Linked DNA regions of Homo sapiens. The protein of the gene in region 1 purifies or fractionates together with the protein of each later gene. This does not show direct contact. Each region holds a gene or a part of one and is shown in the gene's direction. Other genes may lie near its edges.

Region 1 (3,500 bases):
CCTTTCCTCTTTTCTCTCCCCCAATTTTTTTTTTGTTTTTTGAGACGGAGTTTCACGCTTGTCACCCAGGCTGAAATGCAGTGGTGCGATCTCAGCTCACTGCAACCTCCACCTCCCTGGTTCAAGCGATTCTCCTGCCTTAGCCTCCTGAGTAGCTGGGATTACAGGTGCTCGCCACCACACCCAGCTAATTTTTGTATTTTTAGTAGATAGGCTTTCACCATGTTGGCCAGGCTAGTGTCGAACTCCTGACCTCAGGTGATCCACCCGCCTTGGTCTCCTATAGTGCTGGGATTACAGGTGAGAGCCACCACCCCGGCTCTCTCCCCTAATTTTTATTTGATTGCATCAATAATTCTAATAGCAGGCAAGGAAATGAAAGGGTGAGAGAGGTCACCACTAACCTACCCCATGACTCATCAGCTGGCCTCTAGGTTTTGTTTCTTTTTTCACTTCCTGCCTATACAAATCCTTAGTCCTGAGGTAGCACCTGGGTACCAATTCACATCCTGTTTTTTACCCCTTCATTTAAACATAGTAAACATTTCGCTACATTGTATACCGTCATGTTTTTTAGTGTCTTAGTCTTCCCGTGAAGGAATTTGCCCATAATTTACTTAACCACTCCTGGCACACACACCCGTGCATTTGCGGGCGTGCACACACACACACGCTAAAAAAGTTTTTTTTTTGGCCGGGCGCGGTGGCTCACGCCTGTAATCCCAGCACTTTGGGTGGCCAAGGCGGGCAGATCACGAGGTCAAGAGATCGAGACCATCCTGGCTAACACGGTGAAACCTCGTCTCTACTAAAAATACCAAAAAAAAAAATTTTTTTTTTTTTTTTTTTTTTTGAGATGGAGTCGCGCTCTGTGGCCCAGGCTGGAGTGCAGTGGCACAATCTCTGTTCACTGCAAGCTCCGCCTCCCAGGTTCACGCCATTCTCCTGCCTCAGCCTCCAGAGTAGCTGGGACTACAGGCGCCTGCCACCATGCCCGGCTAACTTTTTGTATTTTTAGTAGAGATAGGGTTTCACTGTGTTAGCCATGATGGTCTCGATCTCCTGACCTCGTGATCCACCCACCTTGGCCTCCCAAAGTGCTGGGATTACAGGTGTGAGCCACCGCGCCTGGCCAAAAAAAATTTTTTTTTGAGACAGGGCCTTGCTCTTTTGCCCAGGCTGGAGTACAGTGGCGCAATCTCAGCTCACCGCAGCTTCCCACCTTAGCCTCCCAAGTAGCTGGGACCACAGGCACGCACCACCATGCCGTGCTGAATTTGTTTGTTTTAGTAGAGATGAGGTCTTGCCATGCTGCCCATGCTGGTCTCAAACTCCTGGGCTCAGGTGATCCTCCTGTCTCGGCCTCACAAAGTGTTGGGATTACAGGCATGAGTCACTGCACCTGGCCTGCACTATATATCTGTACACATGTGGCTTAGCTTTTTCCCATTTTGGAGTATGTTCTCAGTGTTTGCTCCTGGGGGTTAGATGACTAGATCAAATGATTTTTTTTGAGACAGTGTACCACTCTGTTGCCCAGGCTGGAGTGCACCTCTGCTTCCGGGTTCAAGCAATTCTCCTGCCTCAGCCTCCTGAGTAGCTGGGACTACAGGCGCACACCACCACGGCTGGTTAATTTTTGTATTTTTAGTAGAGATGGAGTTTCGGCATGCTGGCCAGGCTGGTCTTGAACTCCTGACCTCAGGTGATCTGCCCATCTCGGCCTCCCAAAGTGCTGGGATTACAGGCGTGAGCCACTGTGCCCGGCCAAGAGGGAATTTTTTTTTCTTTCTTTTTTTACATGATCTGGGCAGGTTTAGTCACAAAGGATGCTGGCCACTTAGACCTGAGTCAGCCAGGCCAGAGCTGGGGGTTGGAACAGTTGTGGAAGAGACTGAGTCTGCACAGCCTGTAGGCGTGGCAAGCTGAGGCTGATCAGGGTTGGCATCTGTGGGGATCAGGGAGGCTGCACTTTGGCCACATTCCTGGGGCAGCAAGACTAAGTCTGAACTCCATCTCCATTTGCTGGAGGGAGTGTGCTCCTGATGCCCTCTCTTCCCCAGTCAGGGCTGGCTCAGAAGCTCCATGCTGAGGGTCTTTAGAGACCTCAACTTGCAGGAGGTGAGGTTGCTATATTGTCTCCCCAAAGGGTCTCCATGGCAACTTGTTGTTATCCAGCTCAAAATGAGAAGGTTCCCTCTCCTTTCATTTCCACAGCTCTAATGTCTTGCTGGACCAAAATCTCACCCCCAAACTTGCTCACCCAATGGCTCATCTGTGTCCTGTCAACAAAAGGTCAAAATACACCATGATGAAGACTCACCTGCTCCGGACGTCAGCCGCGTATCTGCCAGAGGATTTCATCCGGGTGGGGCAGCTGACAAAGCGAGTGGACATCTTCAGCTGTGGAATAGTAAGAGTGTCCTGCTCTGCGTAGAGTGGGGCCCACCTTGATTTGTCCTTCCCACGGCTCCTTTGTAATCACAGGATACGGTAGAGGCACACAGACAGGTTCCATCAAAGTACAACAGGGGCTGACAAACTGTGGCCCACAGGCCACTTTGGCCTGTGGCGTATTTTGTATGGTCTGTGAGCTAAGGGTAGTTTTACATTTATAAAGGATTATATTTTTAAACACAAAGAATATGTGATAGAGACTGAACATGCTCCCCAAAAGCTCACATATTTACTGTGTGGCGTGTTACAGAAGAAATTTGCCAGCCCTTGAAGGAAAACCACTCATGAGTGTCCAGGTTCTAGTAGGCTCCAGATATCCTCTCCTGACTTCCGTAATTCCCATCCAGCCATCCACTTGTCCATCCAGTTGTCTATTTGTCCTTATTTGTTCATCGCTGTCCGATCATCCATCTACCCTTTAGCTGCCCATCCATTCAGCGACCACTGACCCACCCAGCATCCCACCCTACCACCACCACCATCCTTGTCTGCCATTATGTCGTGCCAGGCACTAGGAATATGAATGTAACAAAAACACAGTCCCTCCCCTCAGGAGCTCATGGTCTGCATGTAGCAGTCTCCAAAGTATATTTCTGTAGAACTCCAGTTCCTTCGGACCTCTAGGATTGATGTGTTAAAAGGGTTTGTGCCCTGACAGGCTTGGAAATATTGCATTAGGCAAAGTCAAGCAGGTTTCTTTACCACAAGATTAATTCAAGCTGGTTGAATGGTAGTGAGCCTTTAATCTGGTACTTGTGAATTCACCAGAGAGGGGTATGCAGTGTTTCCCAAGCTCATTTGACTATGGAACCTTGTGTTCTCAGAATATCTGTCCTTGTCAGTGTTCCATGGAACCCAGTCTGGGAAATGCTGGCTGAGAAGAGTAACAGTCAGGTTGGCTTCAGCCAAGTGCATACAGCTGCCCCTTGGGCCTCACCCTCTTTTCTTCTCTAGCCTTGAACTCTGTACTTCCTCTCTCTGACCACAGTCTCCTGTCTGTCTACCTCTGCTACCAGAACCGTGGCCCTGAGTCACCTCTGCCC
Region 2 (3,500 bases), about 110 Mb from region 1:
TCATTCAATATTGCCTCTTGGTCCTCAGTCAAGATTATTCTCGAATCCAGGGTGGTTGGACTACAATTTCCCAGCTTACACAGATATTAAGGTAAAATAAAGCAGTAAGTCAGCTGTTCTTGAGGGATGTAGTAGTTGATTCTGATTTTCAACATTTGCTTTTTATTTATCTGCCTAACAAGCATTGGCAACCTCCTGTTGTAGGTTTTGGTTGTACTTTTCCTTCATATTATATGTTATTATTCATAATTTTACTTCAGATTATTTGACTGTCTAAAATTTTCCTCCACAAGCTTAATGAAGATGGTGATCATTTTTTTTCTCACCACTGAATTCCAAGTGCCTAATATACTTTTTATTGATTAAGGAATTTTTAAAGAAGTGAAGAAATTAAGGCACTGGCTCTGTACCTGAGAAACTTAAAATAGAGATTGGGTGACAGTCATGTAAGTATATGATACAAAGCAGAATGAAATCAGTGCTAAAATGAAAGTATGCAAGCAAGTACTATAGGAGAACTGATAAAGAAACATTTTATTTCACTATATCAATGTAGCTATCAACTGTGTATTTCATTAAGCAACCCAAATACTGTCAATAAAATTTAGAAGTAGAATTTACTGATCTACTGCCATGCTAGAAATTAATAGAAGAGAAATAAACATTTTTTAAAGGAGGTAGTAAAATAAACCAGATGTTCTTAGTGCCTAAGCTACTTCCTGATTAATAAGTGAAAGTGTGTATTTACTAACTGGATCCTAGCCTTCTTTTTTTGTTTTTCCTAAATAAGCCATTTGAATTTAATAAGCTATTCCCACTGAAAGGGTTTGTCTTGGATGCTAGATTTCTAAGCTGCTTAATCCTACTGTGTTACTTGGTAAAGGCCAAATTTAAAGCACACAGTTACAAAGAACAGTTGAAAAATATATGTGATATTCTTTTTCATACTTTAATTTTCAAGATTGATTTTCTTAAGTAAATAAAGCCTTATGTTTTTGTTTTGATTCGATATGCTAGTTTATGATGATATTGATTAAGCCAGGCTCTCGGGTGGAATTCAAGACTTAAGAAATTCCCATGTTTCTGAATGCACAAATAAACATAATTTCATTTGTTAATCTTCTCAATCAAAAAAGATACTCTTAAGTAATTAACTTTAGGAACCAAAGAGAAAAGAAAAGCTGATACATGTGAGCATTAGCCCATTAACTTTAGGAACCCAGGTGCAAATAAACAACAACAACAACAAAAAGTGATACATGTAAATATTATCCACTTAGGTTTTTTTTTAACTTTTATTTTAGGTTCAGGGGTACATGTGGAGGTTTGTTTTATAGGTAAATTGCATACTCAATGTTTGTTCTCACTTATAAGTGAGAATATGCAGTGTTTGGCTTTCTGTTCTTGTGTTAGTTCACTTAGGTTAATGGCCTTCAGCTCCATCCATGTTGCTGCAAAGGACATGATCTTGTTCTTTTTTATGGCTGCATAGTATTCCATGGTGTATATGTACCACCCCAAAGAAATATACCATTTTCTTTATCCAGTCTGCCATTGATTACTTAGATTTTTAACATGCTCAATACATAGTTGTTATTGCTTATTAGTGTCCATACATTTTGTTGAAAAGACTCAAACAGCAGTTTTTGTTCATTAGAGTACACACATAGAGACCATTCTTGGGTTTGAGGCTCTTTTGAATGTTAGTTTACAGAAAAACCTTTTATTATTGGGACTTCTGACTTATGTACAGGAAATGACTTTTATGTACAATTTTAAGAGGACCTTTTTCTCTAAGTGACTTTCTCTCCTCTAATGTATATTGTAAAGTGTTCCTACTAGAGTTAGGTTTTGCCGTTTGTCCTTCTGATATAAGGAATATGCAAATGAGTATTTTGCAAAAAGTAGATCTATTGGAAGGTAAAATTGGTATGAAATTAGTGTTTGGTTTCCTTATGTATCCCTTGCAAACAAATCCTACTTGGGCATTTTTCAGCTATTAGGTGTCTAAAATGTATTAGTTAACACAAATGCTTTTCATAAATTAAACTCTCAAGGTATCCTATAGCTTTGAGAATGATTATAGCCAATTCACTGAAAACTTAGCTTCTCTTTATTGTGAGCCAAGTGTCTTTTATTTGCTGAATGAGCTGATATGTAGGTTTTTAGGATACATAAATCCCAGACCTAAGTACAAGCATGGTCCATACCACTGTTTACTTTTCTAGAAAGTTGTTAGACTAATTTTTCAACAAAAATTCTTTATTGTCTTGGTAACAAAAGAAGCATACTAAAAATTCTCAATAAGGCACAGTGTCTCTAGAAGCTTGAGCATTCAACATAAACTTCTAATTAACACGAACTTGTGCTCTTATTTCAGCCATTGCTGTGTGGGCTTGGAGCCAGGAGAAGATGCAGAGGAATTTTACAATGAATTACTTCCATCAGCTGCAGAAAATTTTCTAGTTTTGGGGAGACAATTACAAACATGTTTTATCAATGCAGCTAAGGTATGTGTTTATTTAGTCTTTTGTAGCTAAATCAGTTTAATTCTTAAGAAGCTGTTCTGTTATTTTTTAAATGTGCAATATTTGGCTGAAAGTACAATTAAAGTAGTGAATTTAAACATTTTCAAAGTTACAACCTTCCAAAAATCATCTCTATGTTTGAAAAATTTTTAATGCTGACTGAAGCTTGCCATTTGATTTTTTGAAGGATCTGCCTTGCTACTTTACTTGTTGGGCAGCACCCATAGACAATTATTTCCATAACATCTTTCTAAACATACTTTTTACTTAAATTAACAGTAGAGGAAAGTATGTTCTCTAGGGCTAGGGCTTTTCTAAGTAGCTCCAGTAGTGAAGAATAAAGGTGAACTTCCTATTTGATCTCTCATATCTTCTCCAGTCAAAATATTCAACCCAAACATAGGGGTCTTTTCAAGTATTTCTTGGTTGCATTATGCTAGATGCTATACATGTGCTCTTTTTTTGACCCAGGGATTTAGAAGTGTGTTGCTTAATTTCCAAATATTTGAAGATCTACTAGATACTTTATTGTTATCAATTTCTAATTTAATTATGTTTTGGTCAGATAACATTCTCTATATCATTTCAATCCTTTGGAATTTTTTCAGACTTGTTTTATGGCCCTCCGCATATGTTTTATCTTTGTGAATGTTCATTAAAAGAAACTTTTGTGGGCTGGGCGCAGTGGCTCACACCTGTAATCCCAGCAGTTTGGGAGGCCGAGGCGGGCGGATCACCTGAGGTTGGGAGTTTGAGACCAGCCTGACCAACATGGAGAAACCCTGTCTCTACTAAAAATGCAAAATTAGCCGGGCATGGTGGCACATGCCTATAATCCCAGCTACTTGGGAGGCTGAGGCAGGAGGATCACTTGAACCCAGGAGGCAGAGGTTGCAGTGAGCCAAGATAGTGCCATTGCTCTCCAGCCTGGGCAACAAGAGCAAAACTCCATCTGAAAAAAAAAAAAAAAAG
Region 3 (2,807 bases), on another chromosome or scaffold:
ATTTTTCCAGAGAGTTAGGTATATCATAATTTTCCATTTCAAGTCCTGTTTATAAGTCTAGTCATTCTGCAACGTGACATATCCCCCAAAATGAAGTTACCTTCCAAGTTGGACACGTCCCGTAGTTGGGCATATGTCTAACTAAAAGTTTCTGACTTTTAGTAAATTCAGCTTAAATATAAGTTGAAATTTGGGAAATAATTTCCAAGCTCTTGGAAGGGGTAACAGTGAACCGCCCTCCATGGGCTCCACATCTTTTCCTTTGGCTTCCAAAGTCAGGTCCCGCCCACCCTGCCTAAGGAACTGCAGAGAGGTGGCAAATCAGCAAAAAGGACACCAGGCTCTTCTTGGCCACTTGTAGGAAGATCCCTTTACAATTTTGACTAAGGAGATTTTTTTTTTCACAGTTGAGTTAGTTTGTGAAAATAAAGAACTCTGTAGCTCACCAAGGTGGAGAAACGCAATTCAGAAAAGTAATTTCTCCAAGGTCACTTCTTTTTTTATGTCTTGCCATCACTTTAAAGGACTAGCCCCACTCCCCCATGTGTATACACAAGGAAATTGCAGACCAATTAGTTGTCTTGGCCTGACTCTAATGCCTTTTGCAAGTAGCTTTCCAGAAGTAAAAGTCCCAGTGATGTATTCCCATAGAAATATTTTTCAGTTGTTTATGTCGTTTACTACAAAAAAAAAGATTCAGAGTGGATGGAGTACAACTCTGAGTATTTTTCTAGTCCGGAATTTTTTATTAATAATCGGTGCTGCCGGGTCATGCATGCTGCAACTCTCAACATTTCCCTTATTTGGTTCAGCTTTTAGCAAAAAGGGCTACAGTTCACCCTGCAGAGTATTAAGGTTTCTGGATTTTTTTCTCCCAACTGTGGCCCAAAAGAATTAAAATCTGTTAATATAAATAGAGAACATATTTATCATTCCTCGATAGTTAATTATAGACTTTGGTACCTTTGTGCCTCAGGGAAGCCACGTGATATAACTGGTTATAGAATTTCAGGGTTAGGGTTTAAAGAAAGGAGAAAGCCATTGGAAAAATGATGGGCTCCATTAAGGAGACTAATGAATCTGGATGCAGAAATATGTCAGAAACTGGCATAAACATGATTGTAGTAGAATTTATTTTCCAGTACCAATAGGGAAATTATTTTAAGTTATTACATTTACTGTATTGGGAAACTTGAGGAGAACTCTTTAGTTCATAAAGCTTCAATGTCTTTTTTTTTTTTTTCATGGAAAAACTCAAACCTCTGTTATTTGGGAGCTCAGTATTGTGTGGACACTTACGAGAGTTTTCTGCTTAATTGAAGTGTAATATAGGTTGTAGAATTGTTACCTGCAGTTCTATGGTTTTGTTTCACTTCTTTTCTTTTTTAAAGCCATTCTGTTCTTTGGATGTGCTTGAAAGGGTGTGTGATTACACCATTGTTAATGCTGGGTAAAAACTATCTTCTTGCAGCCTTGCCTCATAACAGTGGAATTTCTGATAGACAAACCACAGGACTTTGATTTTAAGCCAAATCCATCTCCATCCCTTTACTGTCAATCTTCTGTCCCAGTAGTTTAGCCTTTGTGGCTTAGGTTATGATGCGCCTCCTTCTGTGCGACCAATGAGACGACTTCAGCATCTTTTTAAAATAATCTAAGCATCATTGAAGCAGTAACACAAAAAAAAGGTTCAGTATTTTCTTTTTAGTATAACTTACATCCTTTCAAATAAGTCTTTGCCCTCATGAAGAATCCCTAGAGGAAGATAAGGAAAATAAGTATTTTCCAGTTTTGCTTGACAGTTTCTAAACAAACAAAAATAAACTCAATGAAAGGAAAGATGTTTCTTTTTAGCTGAGATGACAGATTGCTTCTCTGTATTAAATAGTCTAGAAGTTAAGGGGATGGTCACATTTACCATGTATTGTGTTATTAGCAGTTAAATTTTATGAATATGTTTGTAAAATTGTTGTTTTATATTTCATGTCAAATTGAAAAGTTTATTTCTTCACTATTGTACCTGTGGAAATACAAGCCATTTTACAGGAAAAAATCTTCAAAAACTATTAAATGGATATCAGCCTGTTTGTGAGCCATTGTCTTCAGATTCTGTGGTTGTCACTGAGTTCATTAGGACATTTAGTAGGTTGATACGAGTAGAACTGATTTTTTTCACTTCTCTAACTTCCAAGTTAATCTCCAGCTGTTGAGTTTATTAATTGTTTTATATTCTGCACAATACATATTTAAACCTTGATTCTGAAAATCCCCTACATTTTTTAATTAAAGAAATTTCCTTGGTGCCTATATTACTATTTCTCGTGACATTACATCACTGTCAAATAAAGTTAACTTCCAGGGGAATTTAACCTGACTTGTAGAATTAATGGATTTTTGTCATGATCATTTCAGCCATATTGCTGCTCTTGTGACAGTCTTCATTCACTTTTAACAACATAATAAGGATTGTGTATAAGCCTTCAAGCCTTCCTTGAAGCCTTAAACTAATATATCTATCATAAGAAAATGTATATATTTATGACAAATTTTGTTCTCATCACATTGATATTCAAAGAGTTTTAGTATTATTGAGAGAAACAGATTTTTCATTTCCAGAAAAAAAATGCACATTTATATAGGCTTTTATTTCAGGGGATAAGTGTTCCATACTTTGTCAAATCTAAGATGCCACGAATTGTGAGATGTGTTATAGAAAATCACAACTGGTTATAATTGTAAGTTACATTCCATTGGGCAAGGAATACACCTCACACAGCATACAAACATTAAATCAAAATGGGTCAAAG
Region 4 (2,880 bases), about 36 Mb from region 1:
TGGAAGATAATCTTCCAGCCAATGTTTGAACAATCACTCTCTCTCCTGGTCCTCAGCCATTTGCTACCTTCCAATCTGCATCTGTCTCCTTAGCCCCACTTCAGCATTCCAACCCCCAAGTCTCAGCAGGTGACTTGCTATTCTGTTTCCTGAGAAAGAACTGTCTCCACTTTCGGCCTCCCTCCTTCAGTAATCACTGCAGTCTCAGCCACTTCTCCCTTCTGCTTCTGCTCCTTCTAGTGTCTCTTGGGACAGAGATTAAAACAAGACATGTAAATTTGAAATTATTTCAATATCAAATAGAGGAATCCAAGAGAATGAATAAAGTGCTTTCTTAAAGGGAGAGAGCAGAGAGACAAACGGGAGCCGGAACAATGAGCCGGCATCTGCACAAACATAGACATGCATACAATTACATTTAGAATTTACAAGCCATTAACTGAAGTAATCTCCAGGGATCAGATTGATGTCAAATTTAATTTTAACTTTCTCCGGTACTTTACAACTGTATTTTGTTAGAATTGGCTGTATATATTTGATAAACCTATAAAAGTTCCTTTCCTTTCTCTGGTTACACTAATAGCATTTGAATATGAAAGGGAGGAGAAACCAATTTCTCCTTGAATGTAAACCATCTATTCTTTTTCTGGAACTCACTGAAAAATATGGCATAGGTGGAGGGTTTTCTTCTTTAAAAAAATAAGAACTCTAAACAGCTTTATTGAGGTAGAATTCATATACTAAAAAATCCACCCATGCAAAGTGTACAATTCAGTGATCTCCAGCACATTCACAGAGTTGTGCAGCCATCAACACAATCCAACTCTAGAACGCTTGTATCCTCCCATAAAGAAACCCTTGCACCTATTATCAGTCATTGCCCTATCCTTCTTCAGCATTGGCAACCATCAATCCACTTTCTGTCTCCATAGGTTGGCCTATTCTGGACATTTCATATAAATGGAGTCATATAATATGTGGTGGGTTTTTTTTTTTGAGATGAGGTCTTGCTATGTTGCCCAAGCTGGTCATGAACTCCTAGCTTCAAGTGATTCTCCCACCTTGGCCTCCAAAGGGCTGGGATTACAGGCATGAGCCACCGTGCCCAGCCTATTGTGTGGTCTTTTGTGACTGGCTTCTTTCACTTAGCATCGTTTTCGAGGTTCATGCATATTGCAGGATGTACCAGAACTTCACTCCCTTTTATTGCTGAATAACATTCCATTGCATGGACACAGCACTAATATTTGGTATATTTGAAGTTTGTACAGCTTGTGTAGGATGAAGCTCCTTCTCTGTTCCTCACATCACCACAACCCCAGTGTGTGCATTTGGGAGGTCAGTGGAATGGCCACACCCACCCAGAAGAGACTTCTTGGCTAAGCAGGGGAGGCGTGGATGATGCCACCTTCTTTTTCTCCCCAGGAAATAACAATGAGGCATGGGCTAAGGATTTGAAGCTGGCAGACTTTGCGCTGCTGTGCCTCGATGGCAAACGGAAGCCTGTGACTGAGGCTAGAAGCTGCCATCTTGCCATGGCCCCGAATCATGCCGTGGTGTCTCGGATGGATAAGGTGGAACGCCTGAAACAGGTGTTGCTCCACCAACAGGTATGGACCACAGGGCTTCTAGTGCTTTCTTAGCTGTGTGGGCTCATGTTAGGTGAGGAGATCACAGAGCTAGGTGCACCAGCCCACTCGATCCTCTCTAGTCCTCTACTTGAAGCTCATGGTGAGAGTATTGGCTTCATGCTGTGGCGTTGCCCAGAGTGTCAACAAGAACAACAGAGGCTTTTGACTCTGGGCTTTCTGGGACTCACTCCATTTCTGCTGAGACTCTGTGCCCTGGCCTTGTTGCCATCACTGCCTGGCTCAGAGGCTGTCTTTTTCCCTCCTGCTGTTCTTCTGGCAAATGAGGAAGCCACTGAGCCTTCCTCCCACATGCATTAGTATAGTGCTTTTTACTCAGGTGACATTTCCTGAACCTGGGCCGAGTGAACAGTGCTCTAGGCCAGGCCTCTAAAACAGCAAACTCAGAAGGTGCCCTATAGATTTAGGGCTCTCTAAATGTGATTTGAACGAAATCCCAAAATTTTCTTAAAATCTGGGATTTTATTAGAACTTCTATTTTTATCATATAACATCATGTCTCTGTGTGCTTTTGAAGAAAACAACTCAGGAATAACAAGACTGGCCACCATAACTGGCCTTTATGGAGCTCTTAATGTGCACACACAGTGGTGCTGGTGAGAGAGCTGCCGTGACTGAGGGGTTTGGGTCTCAGTCTCCCCACATGGGAGCCTGGGACAGAGCAGGAACTGTGTGAGGGAGGCAGGGTGACCGACCTGCACACTGAGCTGGTTAGTGGCTGAGCCTGGGTTTTCCTAGCAGCCTGCCTCTCTAGAAGAGCTGCATATTAGAATGTCCTGAGCAATTGACTTGTGAGGGCAGATCTCAAAACCCCTCCATTGTTGCCTTGTCACCCATAAGAAGTTGTATGGGAAAAGGTCACAGGTTAAGAAGGAAGGAAAGATGGCAGATGGTAGGAGGTAGGACCAGAAGTGGTGCGAGGCCTGGATGCTGCCCAAGGCGGGCCTGCCACCAGGAGTGTGGGGTGGGGGACTCCACTAAGGAGGTGGAATGACTCCAGAACTCAGCTCCTTCTGCCCCATGGTTTTCTCAGGGCTGTTCTTGGGTGGAAGAAATACCCCTTTGCCTCCTTTAACCCATAAATTCCTCTTTTCCTTAGCTACTCACTGTCTGCCCTTTTGTCGCAGGCTAAATTTGGGAGAAATGGATCTGACTGCCCGGACAAGTTTTGCTTATTCCAGTCTGAAACCAAAAACCTTCTGTTCAATGACAACACTGAGTGTCTGGCCAG
Region 5 (3,500 bases), on another chromosome or scaffold:
CAACATGGTGAAACCTCGTCTCTACTAAAATAAAAATAAAAAAAAGAAAAAATTAGCCAGGTGTGGTGGCGGGTGCCTGTAATCCCAGCTACTCAGGAGGCTGAGGCAGGAGAATCTCTTGAACCCGAGAGGTGGAGGTTGCAGTGAGCCGAGATTGTGCCACTGTACTCCAGCCTGGGCAACAGAGTGAGAGTCAAAAAACAAACAAACAACACTAAATGCCTACTCTGTGCCAAGCACTATTCTAGTTGCAGATCATTTTTTTTTTTTTAAGAGACAGAATCTCACTATGTTGCCCAGGCTGGTCTTGAACTCTTGGCTCAAGCGATTCTCCCACCTCAGCGTCCTAAAGCACTGGGATTACAGGAATGAGCCACCATGCCTGGCCTCTGATCCAGGTCTCTTAACTCCCAATTTGATGCTCTGTTTACTTGTTCTCTATATTTAATAGTTTTCTTTGGAAAAGTGTTCACTCTTCTTCTTTGTGTTTCTGTGATAGATCCTGCCTAGTTAGGAGTTTGGAGATAAGGAAGTTTGAGAAAAACAAGAGGCTCTAGGACAATTAATCATGTCTGTGGCTCTGCTCAGCATATCACTTGGGTTGTCAGCAGAGCCACATGGACCTAGAATTGGCCTGTCATCTTTGGAAGGAAGTTGTGTTGCTGATTCTCTGCTTTGGCTCATTGGCTTGTTAGCCATTTGATGTAGATTATTTTGTGTGTGGGGATTTTTAATAAATCTTTCAATCTGAGTCATTTGGGAAGAGCAATGTTCTAGCTTAATGTATTATTTTGAGAAGTGATGTCCTCTTTCACGTAATGTTGGTCTCATGCAAGTAGGGAGCTATGCCAAATGTAGTATCTCTGCTGAACTTTGGGTCACCTTTTTAACTAATATGTATCCATATGATTTTAACTAATATGTATGCATAAGGATTGTGTCTCCTTAATTCCTAGTTACAATTATTTTATGTCATTTAGATTCCTTTTACTTATTCCATACTTGTAAAGCACTCATATAAACAATTTAAATGATTGTTTTTATTGATGAAAATATTTTAATTTTCTCATAAGCCTCCTGCTCATTTGTCAAATTTTTCTTTTCCTACCCATAGTTCTACTTTCTTCCAGGCAGAGCTGTGGATCAAAGAATTGTAAGTTATTTTTGGTATCATTTTTCCTTCTCAATCAGTTCATTTTTAGTTAGAAGAAATCAAACAATTAGCTAATCATCCTGCTTATTTTTTGCCAATAAGAAGTACCTGTTTAGGCTGGGCGCGGTGGCTCACGCCTGTAATTCCAGCATTTTGGGAGGCTGAGGCAGGTGGATCATCTGAGGTCAGGAGTTCAAGACCAGCCTGGCCTTCATGGTGAAACCTCATCTCTACTAAAAATACAAAAATTGGCTGGGCATGGTGGCACGCGCCTGTAATCCTAGCTACTTGGAAGGCTGAGGCGGGAGGATTGCTTGAACCTGGGAGGTGGAGGTTGCAGTGAGCCGAGATCACGCCACTGCACTCCAGCCTGGGCAACAGAGTAAGACTCCATCTCAAAAAAAAAAAAAAAGAAGTGCCTGTTTATACTTTTAAGTTGTTGGGTTTTCAAAATATTGTTGGAGTTGGAACATTTCTATACTTATGTTTATTAAATCTATAACAATTGTTGAAGCTAAATTAAATTGGAAAAATAGAGTTAGCTATTATATAATAGGGAAAATAAATGATCCTATTTTGGCATTTGTAAAACTAATTTATTGAATAATTCATATTTCTGGACTTTGCAAAATCACTGAAAGCATTTAGTCTCACTTAAGGAACTTAAGTTATCCAAACCCCTCGGTCTCGGTAATTTTTTAAAAATCTATCAAAAATGAAGTATTTGAATTAAACTTCAGTGATATCTTGTATTCGTTTCTCCTTTAGGGTTCAATCCCATTTTTGGATTTCCAGACTGAAGTTTCGCTTTCACTATAATCTTAAAAGCATGTTAAGAAAAGAACTGTGTGTTTACAAATGTTAACAAGTCATCTGTTCACATTTAGCAGCACACTAATATTTTTAGTAATTTCAGTAAAAATAGGTCGGGTGCAATGGCTCACATCTGTAATCCTAGCACTTTGAGAGGCCAAGGTAGGGGGGTCGCTTGAGCCCAGGAGTTTGAGACTAGCCCGGGCACTGTAGTGAGACCCTATCTCTATAAAAAATAATAAGTAAAAATGGTAGAGTAATTTCAGTAACATTATGTGGTTTCACTCTATGTCTTAAAATAAGGATGATAAGTTAGTGTAAGGATTTTAGACTTTCTTTGTGAGGGTCCTGTATTTAATATTCAGTGTACATCAACAATATGTTTCATAATGAGAGTGGTCTACATTTGGTCACGTTCCTTTTCATTTTCTAGAACTAGTGTTTATGATTCTCGAGCACGAGAAAGATTGCGCCAGATTGAAGAACAGAAGGCATTGGCCTTACAGCTTCAAAACCAGGTAAAAAAGAAAATTGGAATAATATTACAAATAAATAGTACATCAAAGTAGAAACTATTTTGGAAAGTTACCCAGATTTGGGTAATTGCTGTTGTAATTCCAAGATCGTATGGTAGCATAGCATGTTATGATATGTCGTAAATGTTCTTGGTCTGTCCAGTCAGTGCTACTCATTGTACATAAGACAAATATAGATAGTCCCCTACTTGTGATGGTTCGACTAATGATTTTTTGACTTTACAAAAAAGCGAAAGCAATGGGCATTTAAGCACGCTCTTTGACTTATGACAGGTTTATTGGGACATAACCCTATCATAAATCAAGGAACATCCACAGATTTCTTTATCCCACTTACTCTGAAGTTTTATCTTTCAGAGATTGCAGGAGCGGGAACATTCAGTACATGATTCAGTAGAACTACATCTTCGTGTACCTCTTGAAAAGGAGATTCCTGTTACTGTTGTCCAAGAAACACAAAAAAAAGGTCATAAATTAACTGATAGTGAAGATGAATTTCCTGAAATTACAGAGGTAAGTTACATACACTTAATTTCTACACTACTAAGTATCATGTTTAGAAAGAATCCCTCGGATGAGTTTCAAACATAAAAGCAATAGTGGTCAGGCACGGTGGCTCACGCCTGTAATCCCATCACTTTGGGAGACTGAAGCGGGTGGATCACTTGAGGTTAGGAGTTCGAGACCAGCCTGGCCAACATGGTAAAACCCCATCTCTACCAAAAATACAAAAATTAGCTGGGTGTGGTGGCATGCACCTGTAATCCCAGCTACACAGGAGGCTGAGGCAGGAGAATTGCTTGAACCCGGGAGGCAGAGGTTGCAGTGAGCCGAGATCATGCCACCGTACTTCAGCCTGGGTGACAGAGCAAGACTCCATCTCACATACACACACACACAAAAAGCCATAGAACACGTGTTATTTAAATTTTCTTGTATATTTCAGCTTTCGCTTATTTTATATACCAATCTGGGCTTTATTTTTAAAATATTGAAAA
Region 6 (2,918 bases), on another chromosome or scaffold:
TTCTAAAATTATTGATTCACAAGTGCCATGTTCAGAACTATAGAATATTACTGTTACATAATGTCTGCACAGCTGGTCCCTTGATTCAGTGGTAAGGTTTTTGTGTACACCCCCCTGCTTGCATTTTATTTCAGAACCACAAGTATTACCCAATATGTTACATGGAGAGGAACTATAAAGAATCCCTAAGGCAAAAAGAAGTCTCTAGAAAATGACTAGAGGTTTTTTTTTTAGCATAACAAATTTATTTAAAGAAAATTATTAAATTTATCTTCGCCTTGTTTTGCTTCTCCCAGTTCCTCCTCTTCTTGCCATTTTCCACTTGTCTTTCCCTCCCAATCAAGCCTGTGATCCTTACCTCCATGTGGGCCCTTCACCAGCTTGGGCCTCATCTCTGGTGTCCAGCATGTGTGGAAGTCACACGTTCCCTTGATGAACAGCACACACAGTCTCCTTACTTAGCTATAGGTTTCCAGCCTCCCTGTGACAGACAGGCATAATGAGGGGCTGAATAGGTGTTTGTAGCATTTTCGGGTATCCAGTGGTGTGCAAAATGGCTCATGTCATCACACCTCAGGTTATTGTAGAGAACTGGAAAGACAGAATCCATACTCCCTACCGCCAAGATTCTGACTTAGCTGTTGTGCAGCGGGAGATGTATGTCAGTCTATTTTAAAAGCTTCTCCAGTCAGCTAGACACAGTGGCTCATGCCTGTAATCTCAGCACTTTGGGAGGCTAAGGCAGGAGGATCGCTTGAGCTCAGGAGTTAGACACCAGCCTGAGCAATATAGCAAGTCTCTACAAAAAATTTTAAAAATTAGCTAAGTGTGGTGGCACATACCTATGGTCCCAGCTACTCAGGAGGCTGAGGTGGGAGGATTGCTTGAGCCCAGGAAGTCAAGGCTGCAGTGAGCTATGATCGTGCCACTGCACTCCAGCCTGGGCAAGAGTGAGACCCTGTCTCAAAAAAAAAAACCAAAAAAACAAAAAAACCCTTCCCTGGTGAATATAATGTATGCTCAGTCTTGAGAGTCACCATTTGGTTTGACCCATATTACAAAGCCCAGCCTTCTTTTTCCTCAGATGGTTTCATTTCTCAAAGGGGAGTGGAAGAGAAGGAAGGAGGAAAAAAACGTGCCTTCCTTCCTGGTGAACATGAAGCTCACTGAACCTAAAGGAGACTCACAGGCTAGAAACCAGTGTCCTTAGTAGTAGGGGCCACCTGGGGCTTCCGTGGCTTCTCCAGGCATACCTCCTGAGGTTCCACAGAATCCCCTTGCAGAAAGTACTTCTGATGAGCCACTGGGAACGTGTACTGTCCAAGCCCCCTTCTAGGGGAAATTCACTGCCACAGAAGCCAGCAGCCCTGGCTGTCCCAAGGGTGCATAAAAGGATAATAACTAAAAGGAGGGAATTAATTTTGTTGCCTACACCAGGGATAGATCGAGGGCACTGAAAGCATCATAAGTATAAACTCATCTCCACGTCAGCTTGTGGAGTCTGCTTTCTCGCTCTCTCTTTTTTTTTTTTTTTTGACAGAGTCTCACTCTGTCACGCAGGCTAGAGTTGCAGTGGTGCGATCTCAGCTCATTGCAACCTCCCCCTCTCTGGTTGGAGCGATTCTTCTCCTGCCTCAGCCTCCCTAGTAGCTGGAACTACAGGCACACACCATCTCGCCTGGCTAATTTTTGTATTTTTAGTAGAGATGGGGTTTCACCATGTTAGCCAGGCTGGTCTCGAACTCCTGACCTCAGGCGATCCGCCTGCCTCGGCTTCCCAAAGTGCTGGGATTACAAGTGTGAGCCACTGTGCCCGGTCGGGGTCTGCTTTCTCTTTATTCCCCGTCCTCTCACAAACTACATCCAGGGGCGGTAGCTGCTAAAAGGACTCAATTCTGCAACCTCAGCTTCTGACACCTTCAAATAAATTAAATGCTGGTCCTAGGGCTCGCTCCCCAGCTCTTCTGATGTCACTGCCAGGTTCCACAGCCAGTTGTCGGACATCTCCTGCTTCCTCAGCCAAGAACACCTCTCAGATGAGATCAAACCGCCCAGCTTTCCTCTTAGCATCTTCCTTTATTTTCCACTTCTGGCTGGTGGAAGAGAGATCGTAGTTCTCTATTCCCTACATTTTAACTCCACGAATATTTTAGATTAAGTGAAGTCTTGCTGTTCTTCCTGATGGAAATGGTAATTATAAACATACAAAGATACCCATACACACATTCTTTACTCAGGGCCCTCTTGTGCTTTGGCAAATGATAAAAATTATCTCTAACTCACACAACGACCCTGGAAGATCTGGACAATGCTATCACTATTTCACAGCTGAGAGATCGGGAGCATTTAAAGCCACAGAAGGAATAGATTGGCTTCGCTTCATATTGTTTCCTTGTGAAATAAAACCAGTGAAACACCTTTGTGTAGAATCTCCCTGACTCAGCTGAGTGTTCTGAGTAAGCAAGGGTATTACTTACAAGATGCACCATTTGAGCCCACACAGATGGGAGGGGAAATTTTTCCTTAAGTAATTTTATTTGGGTAGAAAAGTAATGCAAGAATTTAACTTACCATTCACACTTTTAAAGACAATTTGTAGAGACTACACTTCAGAATAAAATGTTTTGGCCAGCTACAGTGGCTCACACCTGTAATCACAATACTTTGGAGGGGCTGAATCAGGACGATCACTTGAGGCCAGGAGTTTGAGACCAGCCAGGACAACATTATGAGACCCTGTCTCTACAAAAAAAAAAATTAAGTTTCAGTAGCATTTATGTTCCATTTCATAACATGAATGTTACTAAAACTGATAAAAATTTTATCCTGAAAAGTTTTAACTTGATAGACGTGTAAGAGGAAAGCCTTCCAATTTAATTTCCTGTGTGCTGATAAATCTATTAAATACTTCAAGTCAG
Region 7 (3,500 bases), on another chromosome or scaffold:
CTCTTCAGCGTCAATGGGAGTGGGCATTTTTGTGGGGTGGCCGAGATGAAGTCCCCCGTGGACTACGGCACCAGTGCCGGGGTCTGGTCTCAGGACAAGTGGAAGGGGAAGTTTGATGTCCAGTGGATTTTTGTTAAGGATGTACCCAATAACCAGCTCCGGCACATCAGGCTGGAGAATAACGACAACAAACCGGTCACAAACTCCCGGGACACCCAGGAGGTGCCCTTAGAAAAAGCCAAGCAAGTGCTGAAAATTATCAGTTCCTACAAGCACACAACCTCCATCTTCGACGACTTTGCTCACTACGAGAAGCGCCAGGAGGAGGAGGAGGTGGTGCGCAAGGTGAGGCTGGGTGTTGCAGGCAACTGCCATGCAGATGTGTCCTTGGTGCCGTACTTAGACCAGGTGGCCCGGTGGTGAGCAGATGCGGCAGGTCCGCCGAGCTGAGTCTCGTGACAGGCAGCTCCCAGTTGGCCGCAGGTGGGCGGGCCCAGGTCCTGGCAGCCTCGTGGGCTTTCCCTGCGGAGAGTACTGCTAGTAACCAGTGATGGTATTTGGGTAGATGTCACCGAACGACTTTGATCACTTTCCAATTATAATTGAATAATTGGGACCACAGTGTACACATTCTGTTTTTCTGTTACAAAGAATTTGAGGGTAACTTTCTCCTCTCCTTTTTGAATTGTGATACTTTCTGGAACAGTGCTTCCCAGCCTCCGTCCATGAGGAACACTTAGGTGATATTCACGAAGCACTGCGGTGGGCACGTAGGGCATCGAGACCCCACCTGGCCAAGGGCCCTTGCTTCCCAGGGCACTGTCCCTCAGTAGTTGGGAATCTCTGGTCTTTGATCTGGAGGTCGTTGCTTTATTTTTCTTTTAAAAACCCAGTATCCTGCAGTTTTTGGAAACAAACTCACTCCATCTAGGTCGTAAAGAAAATGGTGGTGGTGGGGTAGGTTTGGAATCCAGACATTTTATAATGACAAATATGGATCCTATATCAAAAATTCATTGACTGGGCCTTTTTGAGACAGTCCTGATTTCCTGGGATACTTGTAGCCAAACTCCTGAGTCTGTGCTGTCATGTGATGTCTGACGGGATTGAGTGTGTTTGCTCTTCAGAAGGGCTCAGATGCCCGTAAACTGGCACCAGCAATGGGAAAATGATGATGCTGACATACTTCATAATGCTTCCTTTATTCGAGAGAGTTCATCCTGAGATTCTCTCCTGCTTTTTAAAAAATATCCCTTCCTGAAATGTCAGTTGATAATAGATGGGTTTTCAGTGTTTTTTTCAGTTCTCTATGTTAAAGGAATTATTCACCTGTGAGCACCAAGTGTCCTAATGTATTTTGGGCAGAAAGGCGTGTACATGGCATATATAGGGATGTATAGAGTAGAGCCGCCTGCACTGTCTGCAGTCTTACATTATGCAAGTCCTGAACAACTTGGGGCTTGTAGAACTTTGGAAAAGTATCAGTCCCTCTCTTTTGTGAGAAAAGAAGTGGATGTCATTTATTTCCAGTTACTGAATTCTGAATTAGTTACTGAAATTCTGTGTTTTAGGTCTTTTTTTTTTTTTTAAATGGAGTTTTGCTCTGTTGCCCAGGCTGGAGTGCAGTGGCGCAATCTCGGCTCACTGCAACCTCCACCTCCTGGGTTCGAGTGATTGTCCTGCCTTAGCCTTCCAGGTAGCTGGGATTACAGACAATAGCTCGGATTACAGACTTTTAGGTATAAAATGAATACTGAATTGCTAAAGTTGCAGGGATAATTGCTAATGAAGCTTTAGGTCCTTAGCTGGCTAAACTGGAAGCTGGCTGTGTGTGTGTGCGCGCACAGTTTTTCTTCTTAAATACCGTAATACTTGGGTTTTCATAAAGTGTGCGGACTCCTGACCTGGTTGGTGTTTTTAAAACTCTAGTGTCCTACAACTTGCATTATAAAAACTTGATCTAGATAACTGCTTTTGTGTGTCGGGTTATGGGTTAAGCATCTTGGTAAGCGGCCTGCAGGGTCTGTGGGCATCTGCCTGCAGGCAAGATCCAAGTGTTCCTCAAACCACTGGGTGCTCCAAGGCGAGTCCAACAGAGCCGCTGGTGGAGCATCATTGGAAGGAACTTGGTAACCCTCCCCTAAACTGTTAGCCAAGCTGGAGAACTCTGGGCCCATATGGGTCAGTGTTAACATTAATTCATTTTATTGAAAGTGACAAATGAGAACCTGGTTTGTTAATGTTTGGTGGAATTTCAAATAGCTTTTTTTTTTTTGAGCCAATCTCACCGTCAGCCAGGCTGGAGTGCAGTAGTGCAATTTTGGCTCACTGCAACCTCAACCTCCGAGGTTCAGGCCATTTTCCTGCCTCAGCCTCCCAAGTAGCTGGGATCATAGGCGCCCACCACTGCACCCAGCTAAATTTTGTATTTTTAGTAGAGATAGGGTTTCACCATGTTGGCCAGGCTGGTCTCGATCTCTTGACCTCAAGTGATCTGCCCACCTCAGCCTCCCAAAGTGCTGGGATTACAGGTGTGAGCCACCGTGCCCCGCCTCAAATAGCTTTTTGTTTTTGTTTTTGAGACAGGTCTTTCTCCGTCTGCCGGGCTGGAGTGCAGTGACTTAATCACAGCTTGTTGTAGCCTTGACCTCCTGGGCTCAAGCGGTCTTCCTGCCTCAGCCTCCTGAGTAGCTACAGGCGTGCACCACCACGCCTGGCTAATTTTTGTATTTTTTTGTAGAATCAGTGTCTTGCTATGTTGCCCAGGCTGGTCTTGAACTCCTGGGCTCAAACAGTCTTCCCACCTTGGCTTCACAAAGTGCTGGGATTATAGGAATGAGCCACTGTGCCCGGCGTCAAATATCTTTTAAGCTTATTGGGCAGTGTAGAGAAATGGAAGTGGTCCTTGAGGAGGTCCCCAGACTGGACTTCGCTGCTGGCTCTCCCTGCCTGCGAAGGTGCTCTAGGCCTTGTGCTTAACGGGCTGGGCTAGTGGCTCATCCAGGATTGGAGTCTTAGGTGTCTTGAGGCTGAGACTCTGGGTGTCTAATGCTTTCTCCCTCTGGGTTTCCCATGAAGAGTCAGTGCAGTTTTGTTTTGTTTTTTTTTTTTTTAAGACAGAATCTTGCACTGTTGCCCAGTCTGGAGTGTAGTGGTGTGATCTCGGCTCACTGCAAGCTCTGCCTCCTGGGTTCACACAATTCTCCTGCCTCAGCCTCCCGGGTAGCTGGGACTACAGGCCCTTGCCACCACGCCCAGCGAATTTTTTGTGCTTTTAGTAGAGATGGGGTTTCACCGTGTTAGCCAGGATGGTCTCGATCTCCTGACCTCGTGATCCGCCCGCTTTGGCCTCCCAAAGTGCTGGGATTACAGGCGTGAGCCACTGCGCCCGGCCGAGTCAGTGCAGTTTTAAGAACAAAGTAGTGTGCCGAGGAGAGGGTTGTGCGCCTGTGCTGGTAGAGCCCCCGGGCGGTTTTCTCAAGGTTCTCTCAGGACTTCGA

The links.
Region 2: the proteins of IRAK2 (region 1) and IQCB1 purify together in Homo sapiens (affinity purification with mass spectrometry; one large-scale study listed by BioGRID and IntAct). This does not show direct contact.
Region 3: the proteins of IRAK2 (region 1) and PELI2 purify together in Homo sapiens (affinity purification with western blotting, with the first as the bait; one study listed by BioGRID). This does not show direct contact.
Region 4: the proteins of IRAK2 (region 1) and LTF purify together in Homo sapiens (affinity purification with mass spectrometry; one large-scale study listed by BioGRID and IntAct). This does not show direct contact.
Region 5: the proteins of IRAK2 (region 1) and SENP1 purify together in Homo sapiens (affinity purification with mass spectrometry; one large-scale study listed by BioGRID and IntAct). This does not show direct contact.
Region 6: the proteins of IRAK2 (region 1) and LYN purify together in Homo sapiens (affinity purification with mass spectrometry; one large-scale study listed by BioGRID and IntAct). This does not show direct contact.
Region 7: the proteins of IRAK2 (region 1) and YTHDF1 purify together in Homo sapiens (affinity purification with mass spectrometry; one large-scale study listed by BioGRID and IntAct). This does not show direct contact.

Annotation. Positions count from the first base shown.
Region 1 is NC_000003.12:10,220,419-10,223,918, forward strand, and holds part of IRAK2 (interleukin-1 receptor-associated kinase-like 2), read left to right. Parts: intron 1-2,217; coding exon 2,218-2,413; intron 2,414-3,500. UniProt on the Homo sapiens protein: Binds to the IL-1 type I receptor following IL-1 engagement, triggering intracellular signaling cascades leading to transcriptional up-regulation and mRNA stabilization.
Region 2 is NC_000003.12:121,825,061-121,828,560, reverse strand, and holds part of IQCB1 (IQ calmodulin-binding motif-containing protein 1), read left to right. Parts: coding exon 1-91; intron 92-2,380; coding exon 2,381-2,510; intron 2,511-3,500. UniProt on the Homo sapiens protein: Involved in ciliogenesis. The function in an early step in cilia formation depends on its association with CEP290/NPHP6.
Region 3 is NC_000014.9:56,299,218-56,302,024, forward strand, and holds the end of PELI2 (E3 ubiquitin-protein ligase pellino homolog 2), read left to right. Parts: 3' UTR 1-2,307; downstream 2,308-2,807. UniProt on the Homo sapiens protein: E3 ubiquitin ligase catalyzing the covalent attachment of ubiquitin moieties onto substrate proteins. Involved in the TLR and IL-1 signaling pathways via interaction with the complex containing IRAK kinases and TRAF6.
Region 4 is NC_000003.12:46,438,026-46,440,905, reverse strand, and holds part of LTF (lactotransferrin isoform 1 preproprotein), read left to right. Parts: intron 1-1,425; coding exon 1,426-1,610; intron 1,611-2,776; coding exon 2,777-2,880. UniProt on the Homo sapiens protein: Transferrins are iron binding transport proteins which can bind two Fe(3+) ions in association with the binding of an anion, usually bicarbonate. Lactoferricin binds to the bacterial surface and is crucial for the bactericidal functions.
Region 5 is NC_000012.12:48,064,580-48,068,079, reverse strand, and holds part of SENP1 (sentrin-specific protease 1), read left to right. Parts: intron 1-1,114; coding exon 1,115-1,153; intron 1,154-2,399; coding exon 2,400-2,484; intron 2,485-2,859; coding exon 2,860-3,015; intron 3,016-3,500. UniProt on the Homo sapiens protein: Protease that catalyzes two essential functions in the SUMO pathway.
Region 6 is NC_000008.11:56,011,752-56,014,669, forward strand, and holds the end of LYN (tyrosine-protein kinase Lyn), read left to right. Parts: 3' UTR 1-2,418; downstream 2,419-2,918. UniProt on the Homo sapiens protein: Non-receptor tyrosine-protein kinase that transmits signals from cell surface receptors and plays an important role in the regulation of innate and adaptive immune responses, hematopoiesis, responses to growth factors and cytokines, integrin signaling, but also responses to DNA damage and genotoxic agents.
Region 7 is NC_000020.11:63,199,132-63,202,631, reverse strand, and holds part of YTHDF1 (YTH domain-containing family protein 1), read left to right. Parts: coding exon 1-345; intron 346-3,500.